Homo sapiens: one gene and its partner. The protein of the gene in region 2 purifies or fractionates together with the protein of the main gene of each other region. This does not show direct contact. Each region holds a gene or a part of one and is shown on either strand. Other genes may lie near its edges. The genes, in order: KIAA1549 and CRTC3.

Region 1 (3,816 bases), on a different chromosome or scaffold from region 2:
CCTCAGGTGACCCACCTGCCTCAGCCTCCCAAAGTGCTGGGATTATAAGCGTGAGCCACCACATCCAGACTGTATCTCAGTGTTTTTACAACCAGTCAAATGCTCGCAATGAATGAAAACAGCAGGTCTAGGGGACAATTCTAATCTAGTTGCCTGGTCAAATAAAATATGGTTCTTGCACACTATTTACACAGACTCAGTCCCAAAAGCAGGTGTCTCTCAAGGTCTCTGGAGATTTACATAGCTCCAGAGTTAGTCCAGGCTGACTTAGCCTTCAATGTTCCAACAATACCTATTCCCAGAAGGCTAGAACAGAAGGCACTTTACCTCTTAGCCCAGTGCTTCCCAAACCTCAATTGTGCATGCAAAATCACCAGGGGGATCTTGTCAAATGCAGATTCTGATTCAGAAGGTCGGGGGTGGGCCCTGAGATTCTGCATTTTCTAACAAGCTACGAGGCAGTGGAGGCAGTGATGATGCGAGCTAAGAGGCAGTGATGATGCTCAGAGTGTGGGGACCACAAGATTAGAATTTCACTAATGAGAAGTAATTGCCTGAAGCTAACAAAGGAGATGGAAAAAAGAAAGAGACAAAGAGAAAGAATAAGAGAAAGCAAAGTATGGGTCTTGAGTGTGTGGATGCAAGAGGGAAGAATAAAGGGAGTTTTTAAAAAGAAGAGCCATCTGCAATGGTGAGAGTGAGCTGCCTTCAGCAGGTCATGGGCCTAGAACATCTACCAGGCAAGGAGAAATGACAAAACAACCTAACAGAAAAAGGACAGATGCTGCTTATAAGTGCATTCCAAGACATCCAAGATGTTGACTTGATATGTAGGAGCTACAGGGAGAAATGAGCTACAAGGAGCTAGAGGGTTAATGAGATTAGCGCTAATCTCATTAACCCTTTCTTACACCGAGGAGGAAACCCAGGACAAGGTAACTTGTCCATAGTCACAAAGTTACAGGCAGATTTGCATTTGCACACACCCAGGTTTTTTAACTCACCTTTTAACAAATCCTGCTGCCTAACAACAAGAAAAAGAAATCACATCATTGTGAGCTCCAGATGAAAGGTGGGTGGTCACAACTTGAAAACAAATTAGATCAGTTAGAACAGTGTCTTCCTATCTGGGAAAATCAACCTAGTGTAATTATAATGACGGTAATTAGCTGCCTCTATCATTCAGGGCACTGATAGAAAACCTGTGGCTCCCACGTCCCTAGTGACTTGTAACAACTCCCTGGCTGGGTTCTGTTTTCAGAATTAAGTGAGGCACTTCCTGACAAGCACTGCAGCAGCTGTTCCCAAACGGGCAGGAGTGAGCATTGAAAATGCAGTCCTCTGCACCCTTTCACTCCCAACCCAAACAAAACCAAGCAAAAACATGTAACAAAAAATGCTTATTTTATTTTACCTTATCTTATTTTATCTTATTTTATTTTGAGATGGAGTCTTGCTCTGTCACCCAGGCTGGAGTGCAGTGGCGCGATCTCATTTCATTGCAACCTCTGCCTCCCGGGTTCAAGCAATTCTCCTGCCTCACCCTCCCAAGTAGCTGGGATTACAGGCACCTGCCACCACACCCGGCTAATTTCTGTATTTTTAGTAGAGACCGGGTTTCACCATGTTGGCCAGGCTGGTCTCCAACTCCTGACCTCAGGTGATCCCAAAGTGTTGGGATTACAGGCGTGAGTCACCGCGCCCGGCCTCAACATAACGATTTTAAATTAGCTGTTCTAACAGTGAAAAGACAACTGCAAGATACCAATGGTATACAGTAGTCCCCCTCCTCCAAGGTTTCGGATACCGGAGGACAACTGCAGTTTGAAGATATTTTGAGATATTCTGAGGTATTTTGAGATACAGCATATTCACGTTTTATTACAGTAGACTGTTAGAACTGTTCTGTTTTGTTATTATTGTTAATCTCTTACTGTGCCTCATTTTTTAATTAAACTTTATTGCAGGTATGTACATATAGGAAAAAACCATGGTATATACAGACTTCAGTACTACCCAAAGTTTCAGGCATCCACTGGGGGTCTTGGACCACATCCCTTGCAGATAAGGAGGGACTACTATATCTTCAAAATACTGTTAATTTTCAGTTACTGGGTTTACCATATCCGGATCAGTGGTTCCAATGCTCAGGGGCTAAAACGGAGCTGTCAACTTGTTAAAATGAAGATTCCCAGGCACTGCCACCAAAGAGTCTAATTTAGAGGCTAAGGGTGAGTCGTAGACATCTAAATTCTTAACAAGCACCCCCACATCCCCAAATGATGTTGATGCAGGAGGCCTAGGGGCCACACTTTTGAAACATTTAAGTATTTGTTTATAATATCCTAAACGACTCACAAAGCATAAATATTCACCTAGAAATGGCCAATAATAAAACAGCACATTAAGAAAAAAATTTCACACACCATAAGCATAAATGCAATAAAAAAATTATTAAAAGAACAAATGGCAGATCTTGCTAATCAAAACAACCAAAAACTTCTACATTTCAAAATTATGTAAAATTTAAAAGAAATTCCTTTGGAAGGGGAAAACGCAACATATAGAAGGAAAAATGGTTGCTATCCTTCTAATACATAAAGATTTAAATACATATCTATGCCACAACAGGTAAATAAATAAAAATACAGAGAAAATTCACAGAATACAAATACAAAATAAAAAATATTCAATTCTAAAGCAATAAAACCGTGCAGGTTAAAACAATGTATTACAAATTTATTTAACAAGGGCTTTTAAAGTAACATTCAATGCCAGTGATGAAGTGAATACTCAATGCAAGTGATAATGGAAGGCCCCTGCGTAAGCTTCAAGGGCTTATGTCAGCATTATAACTTTCAAAAATTGCTTCATTCAAAAATCACATACTGAGTACCTACTAGGGGCCCAGCATTTTGAACAAAAGATGCAGAAATCCAGCCTGGTGGGCCTTACATTTTAATCACACTCTAATACCCCTTCCACAAATGTATACTCAAGAAAACACACACACACACACACACACACACACACGGAAAGAAACATGCACAAAGCCTTTTTTTTTTGAGACGGAGTCTTGCTCTGTCGTCCAGGCTGGAGTACAATGGCGCCATCTCGGCTCACTGCAACCTCTGCCTCCCTGGTTCGAGCAATTCTCCTGCCTCAGCCTCCCAAGTAGCTGGGATTACAGGCACATGCCACCACACCCAGCTAATCTCTGTATTTTTAGTAGAGACGGGGTTTCACCATGTTGGCCAGGATGGTCTCAAACTCCTGACCTCAGGTGATCCGCCCACCTCGGCTTCCCAAAGTGCTGGGATTACAGGCGTGAGCCAGCGCGCATGGCCAGCAGAGCCTTCTCTATGTAGCTATTCATCAGCATTACTTACAGCAACCCAAAAAATGGAAATAAAAGAATAAATCATTAGGATAGAAAATAGTTTTCAAATAAGACTTAATGAATGGAAAAATGCTTAAGTTAAATGTAGAGTGGAAATGGTAGTAAATACAATTGTGCATATAATTCTTTTTTTAATGTTAACAACAAAAAAACGATAAAATTACTTAGTGTTACCTACAGGCTGTGAGATTATGGGTGACTGGTTTCTGTACCTTTCAGTAATTTCCAAATTCCCTACAAAGCAATCTATTTCATAATAACTATTACTTTTTAAAAACTTATCTCTGAATAAGGTGAAGAAACTGGGCATGATTCTTTGTTTTTATACTGTGGATGGCTAATCACTTAAGAGCAATGCATTCAAAAGTAAGTCCAAAGCATTACAAGTTGTTTCCACAACAGTCAATGGTTAAGAC
Region 2 (3,816 bases):
GAGCCACCGCACTGGGCCAGATGAAATCTTTCAGAAAAGGCTTTGACTACCAGGCCCACCGCCCTGTGTCACGGTCTCTGAGGCTGGACACCTGCATCTCAAAAAGTCAAGTCGACCCAGGGAACGTTAACTTTTTGCTTTATATAATATTATGTTGTTTAAACTCTCTTATGAAGGTTCCTGAACACACAACAACATAAAAGCAGTAAAGAAGCTGAGGGATAGCTCGCTCACCTGGCAGGATGGTGTTCGGGAGACTCCCGCAGTTGGAATACGGGCTTGGTCTCAAATGAAAAGAGTCCTGCAGTTCTCGGGAACCTTGTTGCACCAGAGGCACCTGGAAGCATCGAAGGTCATGTGAGGAAGGCCACACCTCTGTTTCCAAGGAGGAAGTGAGTATTGCAATGTGCTCCCAGAGCAAAACCTGACTTGCAAACTAATCCATATTCCCTTCTTTCCAGGATCCCAGAGTGCTTTGCTCTTATGGTAATGCATGCACAATATTCTTGTCAGGCAGGCAGACGCTGGGGTGGAGGAGGGGTCCCTGAGGTCCACAGCGTGGTGACTTTTCCCCAGCCCACTACACCATCCCAAGAGACACCAATGCTCATGGTTTCTGTGGCCCCTCAGACATCTGTCCTCAGCCTCACCAAGGCCTTTGCAAACTGCCTTCTGTGGGAACCCTTCAAAGGCTCTGTCTATAACCAAGGAAGTATGGACTCTTCTTCCTTGGTTTCTTTCTTCTTTTTTTTTTTAAAGATAGGGTCTCTGTTGCCCAGGCTGGAGTGCAATGGCGCCATCTCGGCTCACTGAAACCTCCAGCTCCCAGGCTCAAGCAATCCGTCCACCTTAGCCTCCCAAATAGCTGGGACCACATGCCACCATGCCTGGCTAATTTTTGTATTTTTTTTAGAGACAGGGTCTTGCTGTATTTTACCCAGGCTGGTCTCAAACTCCTGAGTTCAAGTAAGCCACTGGCCTTGGCCTCCCAAAGTGCTGGGATTATGGGTGTGAGCCACTGCACCTGGCCTCTTCCCTGGTTTCTAGAAAACTGAGAAAGGGGAAGGCTTTCCTTTTCACACTCAGAAGGAGGAAACTCAGGCAAGCTCCTCCCTATGAGAAAGCCTCTATGAGGACTGGTTATAACCAGTGCCAATTTTAGGTTCCTTTCCTGAAATTAATTTTCTAAGCCATTTTAAAAAAAGTCTCAAAAGAAGTGTCTATCATTTTTCAGGGAGACGGTGATTCCCACCTAGACTAAAATGGCTCTTTGGGAAACAGGGAGGCAAGGAGGATTGGTTCTTGCCACAAAGCTTCATCTGTGGCCTGCTTAGGAAACAGCTATCTTAATTTATTTTATTATTATTATTTTATTTACTTATTTTGAGACAGAGTCTTGCTTTGTTGTCCAGACTGAAGTGCAGTGGTGCGATCTCAGCTCACTGCAAGCTCCGCCTCCCGGCTTCACGCCATTCTCCTGCCTCAGCCTCCCGAGTAGCTGGGACTACAGGTGCCTGCCACCACGCCCAGCTAATTTTTTTGTATTTTTTAGTAGAGACAAGGTTTCACCGTGTTAGCCAGGATGGTCTCGATCTCCTGACCTCATGATCCGCCCGCCTCGGCCTCCCAAACTGCTGGGATTACAGGCGTGAGCCACTATGCCCAGCTATTTTATTAAGTTCTTGGCTGGGCACAGTGGCTCGCACCTGTAATCCCAGCACTTTGGGAGGCCAAGGCGGGTGGATCACTTGAGGTCCGGAGTTCAAGATTAGCCTGGTCAACAAAGTGAAACCCCATCTCTACTAAAAATATAAAATTTAGCCAGGTGTAGGGGTACATGCCTGTAACCCCAATTACTCAGGAGTCTGAGACATGAGAATCACTTGAACCCAGGAGGTGGAGGTTGCAGTAAGCCGAGATCACGCCACTGCACTCCAGCCTAGGCGACAGATTAAGATTCTGTCTCAAAAAAAAAAAAAAAAAAAAGTTCTGGAACCTGTTCAACCCTTCTTCCACTCCTTAATCCATCGGAGGGCCCAGTCCATACTTATTGAATACTATTGAATACTATAAAATCTAGAATATTAAAAATAGTCAATGTTAGGAAAAAACTAAACTGTAAAAGAAAGTGGCCGAGTTGAAAATACCTTACGGAACGCACTCCCCTCACTCCCCAGGACTGAGCTCTCCCCAGGAGGCCCCACGCTGTGCTGGGTGCACCAGCCTGGGTGCAGGCCAAATGCGGCGCCACCTTCTGACTCTGCGGTGGGAGCAGGCGCCACTCTCCCTATGCCTCAGTTTCAACATGAGGGCGCTGAGGAGGCAGGTGCTGTGTCCCTTCCAGTGTTCATGATTTTACAGTTCTACAACGAGAGTGTCATCAAAAGTCTCCTGCCGATTGTTCCAATAGTTCCTCTGCTGAAGCCTGATACTAAATAAGGCAGCCAGAGAAAGCATTTTAGGGCCAAAGAAGATGAAAGGCTCTTCTAGCCACAGAACACAACCAGAACCAGGAAAGTGGCATGTCTGGTCTGCTCAGTTCTGAATTCTACAGAATGAACAACCTAAATGGTACAGTTTATGCACCAAGGGAGGAGAAGGCAGGGGCGATCACCCACCTGTTGAGGAAAGGCAGGGCCTGGCCTCATGGACTGCTGGTCAAAACCCACATCTGGGAAGAAGTTGGTCAAAGATGAGCCCTTCAGGGAATAAGGAGATGATCATTTAGCTTGGAACTCAGAGCAAAACAAGCATTCCCTCTGCACCAACGCTCCTGCCAGAACTCACCTGGGCCGGGAGAAGCTGAAAGTCTGACTGTGGCAGTGAGGAGGCTGCCTGGGGCTGCTGGGCAGGGGCCTCAGGGGCGCGGGGCTGCTGCAGGAGGGGCTGGGTGAGCTCCTGGGGTGCAGGGTAAGGGGGTGGCGGCGACACCTGGGCTTGAGCTTCTGTGGGCAGAAAGGAAAGTTGGCTTCGGTCTGAGGACACCATCTGCAAAACAAACACACAAAGCCACTAATGAGCTTCTGCGTTTCTGGCGTTAAGTCCTTTAGGATTAGGAAATGTCAGAGTGAGAGGAAGCCTGAGATTTTCCTCACCGCGGTGTTCTGTGCAATGCTGTGAGAAGCCCGTTTCTCATCCTTCAAAGTATATCTCAAATTTTACTTCCCCACAAAGCATGTTCCATTCAATGACAAGTTCTATTGTCTTAAAAGAACTAAACAAGAAAACAGCCAATTTAACCAATTTCCTTTCAGTTTTCTCCGTGAAAATCATGTTTTGTTTTGTTTTATAGCCGTGTCTTCTGGTTAAAAGTGGAAAATTGAAAAAGGCCCTTAGCTCTGTCATCCCCAAATCCTGTTAAAACAAGACACTACAACATTAACAAGCAATAAGCATTAATAAAAAACACTAAACAACAGCACAGAACACTAAATGATAACAAACAACACGAGGACAAAGATAACGGGAGAGAAGAAAATGGCAACAAAAGCTGGAAAATGAGCAGCAGATGGCCCGGTGGCAGCTGGCTTAGCAGAGCTGAGAAAACCCGATGCTAGGCTGGCAGTGAGGAAAAACCAGGAGGCAATCTCACTGACAGCACTCAGTCCCCACAGGGCTCTGGGACTGGGGACAGCAGGGAGCAGGCGGTGAAGCTAAAACCAGGAGATTCTGGTCACAGTTTGTGTAAGGGGCAGTTGGACCTGCAGAGCCCTTGCCTTGAGTGTGCTTCTGCGCACTGGCCCCCACCATCCTGCCACCTGCCAGGAGACTGGAAGGTTCTACTTTCGAGATAATAAAACTAAGGGTCTCTGGATA

Evidence for each region.
Region 1: the proteins of CRTC3 (region 2) and KIAA1549 purify together in Homo sapiens (affinity purification with mass spectrometry; one large-scale study listed by BioGRID and IntAct). This does not show direct contact.

What each region holds. Positions count from the first base shown.
Region 1 is NC_000007.14:138,974,653-138,978,468, forward strand, and holds part of KIAA1549 (UPF0606 protein KIAA1549), read right to left. Parts: intron 1-3,816. UniProt on the Homo sapiens protein: May play a role in photoreceptor function.
Region 2 is NC_000015.10:90,637,618-90,641,433, reverse strand, and holds part of CRTC3 (CREB-regulated transcription coactivator 3), read right to left. Parts: intron 2,989-3,816; coding exon 2,788-2,988; intron 2,700-2,787; coding exon 2,619-2,699; intron 393-2,618; exon of another isoform or gene 338-392; coding exon 235-337; exon of another isoform or gene 177-234; intron 1-176. UniProt on the Homo sapiens protein: Transcriptional coactivator for CREB1 which activates transcription through both consensus and variant cAMP response element (CRE) sites.